Linked DNA regions of Homo sapiens. The protein of the gene in region 1 interacts with the protein of each later gene in a pairwise test. Each region holds a gene or a part of one and is shown on either strand. Other genes may lie near its edges.

Evidence for each region.
Region 2: the proteins of RCBTB2 (region 1) and MORF4L1 interact in binary tests that used the Homo sapiens proteins (3 or more experiments, as listed by UniProt).
Region 3: the proteins of RCBTB2 (region 1) and COPS4 interact in a two-hybrid assay, tested with the Homo sapiens proteins (one large-scale study listed by BioGRID and IntAct).

What each region holds. Positions count from the first base shown.
Region 1 is NC_000013.11:48,512,566-48,516,221, reverse strand, and holds part of RCBTB2 (RCC1 and BTB domain-containing protein 2), read left to right. Parts: intron 1-480; coding exon 481-636; intron 637-866; coding exon 867-1,017; intron 1,018-3,326; coding exon 3,327-3,493; intron 3,494-3,656.
Region 2 is NC_000015.10:78,889,838-78,893,493, forward strand, and holds part of MORF4L1 (mortality factor 4-like protein 1), read left to right. Parts: intron 1-1,151; coding exon 1,152-1,177; intron 1,178-1,646; coding exon 1,647-1,735; intron 1,736-2,374; coding exon 2,375-2,476; intron 2,477-3,656. UniProt on the Homo sapiens protein: Component of the NuA4 histone acetyltransferase (HAT) complex which is involved in transcriptional activation of select genes principally by acetylation of nucleosomal histones H4 and H2A.
Region 3 is NC_000004.12:83,052,058-83,055,713, reverse strand, and holds part of COPS4 (COP9 signalosome complex subunit 4), read right to left. Parts: intron 1-3,656. UniProt on the Homo sapiens protein: Component of the COP9 signalosome complex (CSN), a complex involved in various cellular and developmental processes.

The DNA.
Region 1 (3,656 bases):
TTGCCCATGAACTAAAACTTCGGACCATTTCCTTGGTGTCACTTTCAGCGTTGTTCTTTACCAAGCATTGTTCTTGACTTAGAGAGCAGATGACATGGCAGCTCTCTCTCTCTCTCTCTCTCTCTGTCTCTCTTGCTTTTACAACCAGCCTAGTTTCCACAGCTACTTTTAAGACATAGCCAATATTTAAAGTATCTGCTGAACATTCAGTTCCCAGAAGCCCAGCTTTGGATGACTCCTGTGTCCTTGAGGACAATGAGTAGGGGAGACCTGGTTCCATCCGGGCCTCCGCTGCTCGATGGCTGTGAGCCGCCCAAAAGCAGCTGGCAGAGGCAATCCCTGCAGCTGCGAGAGGCCTCTCAAAAATGGATGCAGTGTGTTCCTCCCAAAACCAGTGTTCGCCCTCTTCTACAGAACTGAAGGGGCAGAGAAAATTCACTTTTTAATTTGTCATTTCAACATATATTTTTTCCTTTTCAGCCAGTACAGGCTACTCTGTCATCTTTGAAGATGTTAGATGTGGGAAAGTGGCCAATTTTTTCCCTTTGTTCTGAAGAAGAACTACAGTTAATTCGTCAGGCTTGTGTCTTTGGCAGTGCTGGCAATGAAGTTTTATACACTACAGTAAATGATGAGGTAATTTTGAAGAAAATAAATCAGCTACTCACATTTTTAGAAATGGATTTGCCAAATTGAAGATCTTGGGGGAACTAAGGAATAAAAGGTTAAAAAAAAAAGCATGGAAATTAGGTTTTATTTATTATATAAAGAAGCAGTTTGCTTAAGGAAGATGATTCCTGTTTGGATGTAATTTATAGATTTGTTAGAAATAGAACTGCTTGAACTAACAGTGGTTTTTCCCATAGATTTTTGTGCTTGGCACAAACTGCTGTGGCTGTTTGGGGTTAGGTGACGTCCAGAGCACCATTGAACCTCGGAGACTGGATTCTTTAAATGGCAAAAAAATAGCCTGCCTCAGCTATGGGAGTGGTCCACATATTGTCCTTGCAACAACAGGTAACCTAGGAACCCCATGTAGAATTTCAGCTTTATTCGCAGCTGCCCTTGAGAACATTGTTTAATTGGTTGAGAGTTGCTAGCTCTTCCTGTGAAATTGACTATGTTTTGGATACCATAAAACATGAATGTATCTGAATGCCAGCATAAGGTGATGTGGCAGATGGAATCTAGGAATCATTGGCATTTTAGATGTATGAATGACAACGCTGTAAGCCCAGTAAACACTGACGAACTGATTGTGGACTTTGGCAAGTCTGTCTGAACTTTGGATTCTTGATCTATGAATTGAAAGACTAAACCTTGTGTCCAACATCCCCCCGCCAACTCTTAGCATTCTGTGATTCTTACACTAAAGAGTGACTGATGGCTGTAGTTGGCATTAGTAGTAGGGATTAGCCACTTCATAAGGGATTGACTAGAAAAATTCCTTGCTCTGAGTGAAGCAAGGAGGAAAAAAGGAAGAAAATAAATAAAACTTCTCCCCAAAAGGTTGTAACCATGGATTTGTAGTTTAATTCACATCAAGACTGAACGGTCCAAGAAATCTCAACCCTTGAATTTATTCAAGGTACTGGATGGCAAGTGCCTTAAGGGCATGATAGAAGTTAATGCAGATCCTTTCTAGGGGAAGGCACCTTTATCCTAGGCCTGAGAGAATTAACCAAAATAATTGTTCAGTGGCAATAGGCAGCACATAGTCAGAGATAACCAGATATACAGTAGTCTCCCGTTATCCTTGGTTTTACTTTCTCAAGTTTCAGTTACCTGCAGTTGACTGTGGTCTGAAAGTATAAATGTAAAATTTCCAAAATAAACAATTCATAAGTTTTAAATTGTGTGCCATTCTGAGTAGGGTGATATTTCACCATCTTGCTCCATCCCAGCTGGGACATGAACCATCCCTTTGTCCAGCATCTCTGCCATAGACACTCCCACCCGTTAGTTACTTAGTAGCTGTCTCAGTTATTAGATTGACTCTCTTGGTTTCATAGTGCTTGTGTTCAAGTCACCCTTATTTTACTTAATAATGGCCCCAAAGTGCAAGAGTAGTGATGCTTGCAATTTGGATATGCCAAAGAGAAACCATACGGTTCTTGCTTTAAATGAAAAATGGAGAGTTTCCATGCTGAGGTTGTTAAGATTTATGGTAAGAACAAATCTTCTATCTGTGACATTGTGAACAGTACATTTTGTAATTGTTCTCTTTGATTATTAGTTATTGTTGTTAATCTCTTACTATGCCTAACTTACAAATTAAACTTTATCATAAGTATATACGTATAGGGAAAAACAGTATATACAGGTTCAGTACGAGAGTCTTAGAATGTATCTCCTGCAGATAAGGGGGGCTTGCTATGCAAGGAAACAAGGTACCATGAATGGGAACCAGAAGAAACAACAGACAGCAAGAACGGATTACTAAATATCAGGCATTAAAATTATCAGACACCAATTATAAGACAGCTGTATTTATTATTTGAAGAAATTAAAATGAGCTTGAAAATAATCTGCAGGGATTATAGAAGATTTGAAAAGATCCAAATGAACAATATGATTATCAATATGAAAATTCAGTGGACAAATTTTGTAGCAGTTTGAACACAGCAAATTAGTAAAATTAGTAAACCAGAAGATAAATGAGAAGTCACTATTCAGAATATAACACTAAGAGACAACATGCTGGAAAATACAGATGAAATGAGTACAAACTGTATGATTCCATTTATTTAAATTTCAAAAACAGGAAAAACTAAACATTTGTATGCAAGATGCATATGTGAGGGCCTTTTGGGGGGTGATTATAAGGTTATATTTCTTGACTTAAGTAGTAGTACATGGGTGTGTGCTTTCTAATTTGTAAAACTGTACATATATGTTTTATTAACTTTTCTGTATATTATGCTACCCAATAAATAATAACAAAGATTTTTAAAAATCAACTTGGTGATTATTTTAAAGATAAGGAAATTAAGACCTAGGGGAGTTAAGTGGCCTTCTAATATTTGACTTCATTCTAATGTTTTTGCTATTACTCCCAGCAGCCTTTTCTCTGCTCTTTATTAAAAACTTATTTTCCAGTTATTATAACTGCATGCATTTAAATTTCACCTTGTTGCTTTGAGGTAGAATGCAGTTTATACTTTCCAAATAGATTCTTTTGTAGAATGACTTTGGTGGAATGGGGAAGTTGATTAGCTTTTTGCACCTGAATTTTTAGATTTCATTTGTGGAAGCTGTGCTACATATATTTTCGTATAATGAAGTAGATGTTGTAAAAAACTGATTGTCTTTCTTTTTATTTTCAGAAGGAGAAGTCTTTACCTGGGGTCATAATGCTTATAGCCAGCTGGGCAATGGGACAACTAATCATGGTTTAGTGCCCTGTCATATCTCTACTAATCTGTCAAACAAACAAGTCATTGAAGTTGCCTGTGGGTCTTACCATTCTTTGGTGCTAACATCTGATGGAGAGGTGAGAACAGTCAGCATAAAGCTCATTGATTTTTTTCAATAAGATTATGTAGACTTCTATAGTAGTCCTGGAAATACAATCATTTGATTAAAATAACCACCTCCCTCAAATTCAGCCTTATTTTTGGTAGCAATTCACAGTCAGGGTGTTGATGTTGTGACAT
Region 2 (3,656 bases), on another chromosome or scaffold:
AATCCAGGTGTTATAGTATCTTTCCATCGAAAGTAATCCATAATCATGGGCTCTATAAACTGTTTCCTTTGTGGTCTAGAAATAATAATGTAAAAAAGCAAAATTAGGCCAGGCATGGTGGCACACGCCTGTAATAGCATTTTGGAAGGCCGAGGTATGCGAATCACTTGAGGTCAGGAGTTTGAGACCAGCCTGGCCAACATGGTGAAATCCCGTCTCTTAAAATACAAAAATGAGCTGGGAGTGGTGGTGGGTGCCTATGGTCCCAGCTACTTGGAAGGCTGAGGCAGGAGAATCGCTTGAACCCGGGAGGAGGAGGTTGCAGTGAGCCGAGATCACCCAACAGACAGAGCAAGACTCCATCTCAAAATAAATAAATAAAGCAAAATTAGCAATTTACCATTTGACAGTATATAAGTGACGTGAGGTAAGTTGCTGTTAGAGATGATAATCAAGATGAGGAGACTTAAAACAAAAAAATTACACAAATCTAAAAATATTTTGGGGAACAAAAATAATTGGAAAAAAATTTTAACCTTTGACACCTTTTTTTTTTGGTGGGCCTAATAATGTAGTATATACTATAACATATATTAATATAACCCTGGAAGAACGAAGTTGTTTACTAAAGTGTTCTTGGTTTGCTTTTCTTTTTTTTTTGTCTTTGAGACAGGGTCTCTGTCACCAAGACTGGAGTGCAGTGGTGCAATCAAGGCTCACTGCAGCCTTGGCCTCCTGGGCTCAAGCAATCCTCTCACCTCAGCTTCCCAAGTAGCTGGGACTATAGGCGTTTGCCAGTATGCCCAGTTAATTTTTGTATTTTTTATAGAGAACAGGATTTGCCATGTTGCCCAGGCTGGTCTGGAATTTTGAGCTCTAGAGATCCACCCCCTCTTCACCTCCCAAAATGCTGGGATTACAGGCATGTGCCACTGCGCCTGGCTTGGTTTATTTTTTTCTATTATGTGGAGAGAGATGGGAATTTAACCAACTATCAATAAAAATCCTTGTGTCTGAGTAGGACACATATTTACCACCTGATCCTTTATCCAAGTTAGTATTTCTCTGTGAACTTAACCCTGATAAAGGGAGTTGAAACAGAGGCAGTTTTACTGGAAATAATTATTTTTCTTTTTTTTCTCTCCTTTTAGGAAAACGAAAAAGAACAAACAGAAAAGTAAGAATATTAACTTTCTTAACGTTAATTTATGTTACCTCTATGACATTGACGTTTTTATTTTGAAAGCTATGAAATTTTGGAGTAAGCTTATGTTTATTGATTATCTCAAATAGGAGTCTCACAGCAGTGTTATAAAATAGGTACATGGTGGTAGAGACCTCTTTTTGCCAAGGAGAAACTTGTGAGCATTTATTTTCATCTGCTTTAGTCTTAATGTCTCCCACTGAGAAGATAACATTTATAAATAAATGGAAGATGGTGATACTAAATGTTGTCTATACTAAATGTTCGGTAGAGCTCTTCATGAAAGTTGTATTTTTGGTAGGAATATGATTCTTTAACTTAGATTGAGGTAACAGCTGTGTAATGGAGAAATAATGAAAAGGGTTAATGTGTCAAGAGACTATTTTCCTTATAGAGTTTGTTAAATTAGCTAAATGAGACCCCTCCCCGCCAACATTTACAGCACCTGGAAATGGAGATGGTGGCAGTACCAGTGAGACCCCTCAGCCTCCTCGGAAGAAAAGGGCCCGGGTAGATCCTACTGTTGAAAATGTGAGTTTTTCTTGTGTTTATGAATAGCATGTTAGGATTTTTAGTCTCAGTTACATGACATAACCATGGGAGCTTTGATTATCTACAAGATTTGCTTACATGGTTAATACCTGAAATTAAAAATTTTCTCTTTTGGGGGTAAAGGATAAATTTCTGTATATCTTTATTTCACCTGTAGCTCCAGATTTACCTACCCAATTGATCATTTGTTGTGTAAGCTTCATGTTCACCTACAAGACTATTTCTTTGGTGTTACGTATTTATTTTTAGGAGTTAAAGATGTACCTTTAAGATGGTTGTGTTTGGAATAGTTTTGATATCCATGGTAAATAAGAAAATACTAAGTTAAAATGTATCAAGTCAGGGTGTTTCATTTCCTGAACAAGAGGAACCTTACTGAAGAATTTTTACCTTTACAAGAAAATGCACTAAATAGACTATAGTTCAGGTCAGATTCTTTTCTCCCAACAGCGAACCGCGTATGGTCGTTTTTATTAATGATTTTAAAAAATGACAGTACAGCTGTATGCTTGGCTACTTTAAGATTTATCCCTAGTGCCTCTAAAAGTCAGCTCCCCTCCATGTTTGGTATTTAGCAAGAAAGGTTAGGTTTTTAATACTCCTCCTGTTTCTGTTTAGGAGGAAACATTCATGAACAGAGTTGAAGTTAAAGTAAAGATTCCTGAAGAGCTAAAACCGTGGCTTGTTGATGACTGGGACTTAATTACCAGGCAAAAACAGGTAACTTGAAAAGCTACCCAGATTGTTAAGCTATATGATACATTCTTGCTAGCAAAAAAAGTTTTTAAAGGAAAATGTTATATTGACTTGAATTATTAAGGTATGACTGATAAAATAATATTTTAATTTAGAGGCTGAACACTTTAGAACTACTACCAGAAAGAGTAAGTTAGAAGAATAAAAGTTCACATATAAATTTTATGAGGTTATAATGATAAAGGTGGAAATAACTCATTTTTGGAGATTGCTAGGGCAGGAACTCGTTCTGAAAATTCATAAAGGTGAAGAAGCATATGTCTTACTGTCATTGCTAATGGTAGGCCATAGAAAGCACACACCACCACCTGCAAGGTATTCATGACCCTGAAAAGAACCTGAATCTTACTAAGCGCCTGGATCTATTGTTAGTTTGCAGGAAATAGGATGTTTAATGGAGTGACATGTTTGTCAATCGTTGAACTCTATAATTGAGAATTTTATAGGACAAATGAAGCTATTTGAACAAATGGCATAGGTAGGGTTAGGGATAGTTGGGGGAGATGATTAGGGACTGCTTGAGGATTATGAGACTTAAGAGACCTATCAGTCATATACAGTATGTGGATATAGTTTGAATTCTGATTTGAATCCTTTGGAGGGTTATGCAGTTACAGCTAAACTGCGAAGATTCAAGCATGGCTGTATCACTTATTATTTGTGAGTTTGGACAAGTTTCTTAGCCTTTTTGTGCTTCTGTTTTTGCATTTAATGGAATAATAGTTTGTATTTGACAATGCTGATGAGAGGACGAAAAGATAATTATTTTAATGCTTTAGACTAGATCTAGCAAATAGTATGCATAACAGTAAATGATGACTTGGTAGTACCACAAAGGCACATTCGTGTCTGTTATGTGTGTGTGACAGATTGACATTTTTAAAAGCTGTGCTGTTCTGTCTAGTAGAGTCTCATTTGGCTGTTTAAATATATAGATGCTCCATAACTTAGAATGGGGTTACATCGCAATAAACCCAGCAGAGAGTTGGAAAATTAAGTCCAAACCATTGTAAGTTGGGAACTGTCTGTAGTTTCTCAGCCACATTATCCATGTTTTAAGTGCTGAATAGTATCTTTCCTAATTTGAAATACTGTTACTGTTACCTGATCTTTGTATAAAAACTTGCCTGGTATGATTTTTCTT
Region 3 (3,656 bases), on another chromosome or scaffold:
ATCCCAGCACTTTGGGAGCCCGAGGCGGGCAGATCACGAGGTCAGGAGTTCAAGGCCAGCCTGACCAATATGGTGAAACCCTGTCTCTACTAAAATAAAAAAATTAGCCAGGCATAGAGGCACATGCCTGCAGTCCCAGCTACTAGGGAGGCTGAGGCAGGAGAATAGCTTGAACCCGGGAGGTGGAGGTTGCAGTAAGCCGAGATCATGCCACTGCACTCCAGCCTGGGCAACAGAGTGAGACTCCATCTCAAAAAAAAAAAAAAGGTAGAATACTGTATAGTTATAATCTAGTCACCACGTATTTTTCCTAAATGAAAAAACTGGATAAAACAGTATGTAAAACACTATTAAAATATATTTCTATACACATATATCAAAATACTAATAGCAATTATCTGTGGGTAGTCAGATTATAGGTGGCTTTCATTTTCTTCTTCATCTCAGTGGTCACATTTTATGCCAGGAGTGCATAACTAAAGACCTCACATAACTCAAAACTCACATGAAACAAGATTAATCCTAACAGAAAAATTAATCCTATTTACCTGCAAAAGTGGTGCCACCATGTGGCAAGAACACAGAGTTTATAATTCACTTGGCCCCAGCTTTGAAAATAATTCTATACTTTATTGATTTGGGGGCAAAGGAGAATGGGAGGAGAAATTTATGCAAATTTATTCCTTGCATATATTAATATTCTGTACTTTTTTCCATTCACAATTCAAATTTACATTGCTTGCTATGCATAGCACTATACTGTTGAATTTTCCAATTTTTTGCCAAGTGTAACTATTATATCGATTACTTTCATAATCAGAATGAATCATTTTTTGAAAGAAAAAGTTCCCATTTATCCAAAGTCTACATTTAGTCACTTTAACTCGTTTAGAAAACCAATGACATTTTTATCTCTTTGGTTTCCTCACAGATGAGGATAACACTATAGTACTATAAAATGATAATTATGACCACTGCAAAAAACAGTATCTAATTTTATATTTGTTTCAGCTACCACTGAAAATAAATCAATTGCCCTGTGCTAGGGAAAAAATGCTAGGTAAAGAATAAGACCAAAGCAATCAAGAAAGCCCAGCTTTTTCAAACTACCAAATTATCAAGGGACCTTGAAATGCAAAATTCAACATCTACATATGAAGGCTTTTTTACAAACTGGCCGCTTTTTCAAGGAGCATCATTGCCAAGTAATTTCATAAATAATGCACAAAAAAGGCAAGATGTCTGAAGCAGTGTCTGCCTCACTATTGCAAATATTAATGAAGAACAAAAAAAGAATCCCCCGTTCACCTGGCAAACGAGTAGAAAAGCAGATGAAGTTATTTTTTGTTTTGTTTTGTTTTGTTTTGTTTTTGAGATGGAGTCTCGCTCTGTCACCCTGGCTGGAGTGCAGTGGTGTGATCTTGGCTCACTGCAAGCTCCGCCTCCCAGGTTCACACCATTCTCCTGCCTCAGCCTCCCAAGTAGCTGGGACTACAGGCGCCTGCCACCACACCTGGCTAATTTTTTATATTTTTAGTAGAGACGTGGTTTCACCATGTTAGCCAGGATGGTCTTGATCTCCTGACCTTGTGATCCGCCTGCCTCAGCCTCCCAAAGTGCTGGGATTACAGGTGTGAGCCACCGCGCCTGGCCAAAGATATTTTTAAGTCCTTCACAGTTGGTACCGTTTTATACTTGCCAACTGGAAGAGGAAGTGTTTTCAATACAATAAGCAATAGTCTCATACCTTTCATCCTTCTCGTGCAATATACTTAGGAGAAATGTTTCATAAAGAACTATAAATTTTAAAAAACATATACATCAAGAGGTAAGATTGGTTGAGTAAGAGTTATAAACCATCTTTTTTTTTTTTTGAGACAGAGTCTTACTCTGTCACCCAGGCTGGAGTGCAGTGGTGCAATCTCGGCTCACTGCAACCTCCACATCCCGGGTTCAAATGATTCTTGTGCTTCAGCCTCCCCAGTAGCTGGGATTACAGGCACATGAGACCACACCGGCTAATTTTTGTATTTTTAGTAGAAACAAGGTTTCACCATGTTGGCCAGGCTGATCTCAAGCTCCCGACCTCAGGTGATCTGCCCACCTCAGCCTCCCAATGTGCTGGGATTACAGGCGTGAGCTACCACGCCCTGCCATCTTAATTTTTTAAAATTGTTTTTCTACCTCATTTTCTCTAGTATCTCAAACCCAACAATCCTTGAACCCACTGTGCCCTCCAAACCACTTATCCCTTACATGTCACTGCCTTTCTCCATAAAGGCCTCACTTCCCTCTTTACCTAGCCTAACTCCTATGGTCACTCATTGTAATAACTTATCATCATTGAACCGCATAGGTACTCATCTCCCTTGTCCCTCTCTTGCTGTCATACTTGTTAGGCAAAAATTGCAACTGTGGTTAAACCTAATTGTTTGCTCACTCCTTTCCCGTACTCATGTAGCTGAAATGTGATGGGAAAAAGCACCAAATCAAATTTTTTTTAGAGATGGGGTCTTAGTGTGTTGCCCAGTCTGGGCTCAAATTTCTGGGCTCACAAGATCCTCCCACCTCCGCTGGGACTGAGGCTTGTAGCCAGGACTACAAGCATGAAGCCACTGTGCCCAGTATGACTGATCTAATTTTAATCATTATGATCTTCAACAAGTCCTTAATGCTGCCAAGTTTACATGCTGAGTCCATTCATTGTCCCACTCTCCTAAGGGGATTACTTCTCACATTATTGTCTCTCCTCAACCTCACACTGCAACCCCATCCACCGTTCCAGCTGATGTCTCTGATTTCAACTTCCTTAAGAATATTGAAGCAAGGCTGGGCATGGTGGCTCACACCTGTAATCCCAGCACTTTGGGAGGCCAAGGCAGGTGGATTGCTTGAGCCCTGGAGTTTGAGACCAGCCTGGGCAACATGGTGAAACCCCGTTTCTACTAAAAATACAAAAATTAGCCAGGCGTAGTGGTGTGCACCTGTAGTCCCAACTACTTGGGATGCTAGGAGACGGACACTGAAGTGAGCTGAGATCACACCACTGCACTACAGCTTGGTTGACAGAGCCAGACCCTCTCTCAAAACCAAAAAGCCAACAAAAAAAGAATACTGGAGCAATGCAATGAAAGAGTACTTACACAAATTCCACCACTATATCACTAATATGTCTACAGACATTTTTCTTGTCACAACTAGGAACAGCAGTACTATTGGCATCCAGCAATCAGAGGAGTGGTGCTGCTAAAACCTCCTGCAATACACAGGACAGCCCCCACAACAAAGTATCTAGCCGAAAACGCCAGTAGTGCTGAGGCTGAGAATCTCTGACACAGATGAACTACCCATATTCCTATCTAAAGCCTATCCCTCTGCTAGATTCCTTCCTCTCTTGTCTACTCCTGCAAGAATCCTCTCCCCAATTCCCCTATATCAAATTTTTGCTTTCTACTGGATCATAAAAGAAAAACTAATCCCTTAGCCTAACGTCTGCTGTCATCGTCTACCCTGTTTTTCTTCCTACCTTTTTTGAAAACTCCCCCACAGGGTAGCCCATACTCACTATCTCCACATCTTCTCTTCCCATTCTCTCTTAAACCATGCAATCAGGCTTTCACTATCATTTCACAAAACTCAGCTGGTTAAGGTTATCA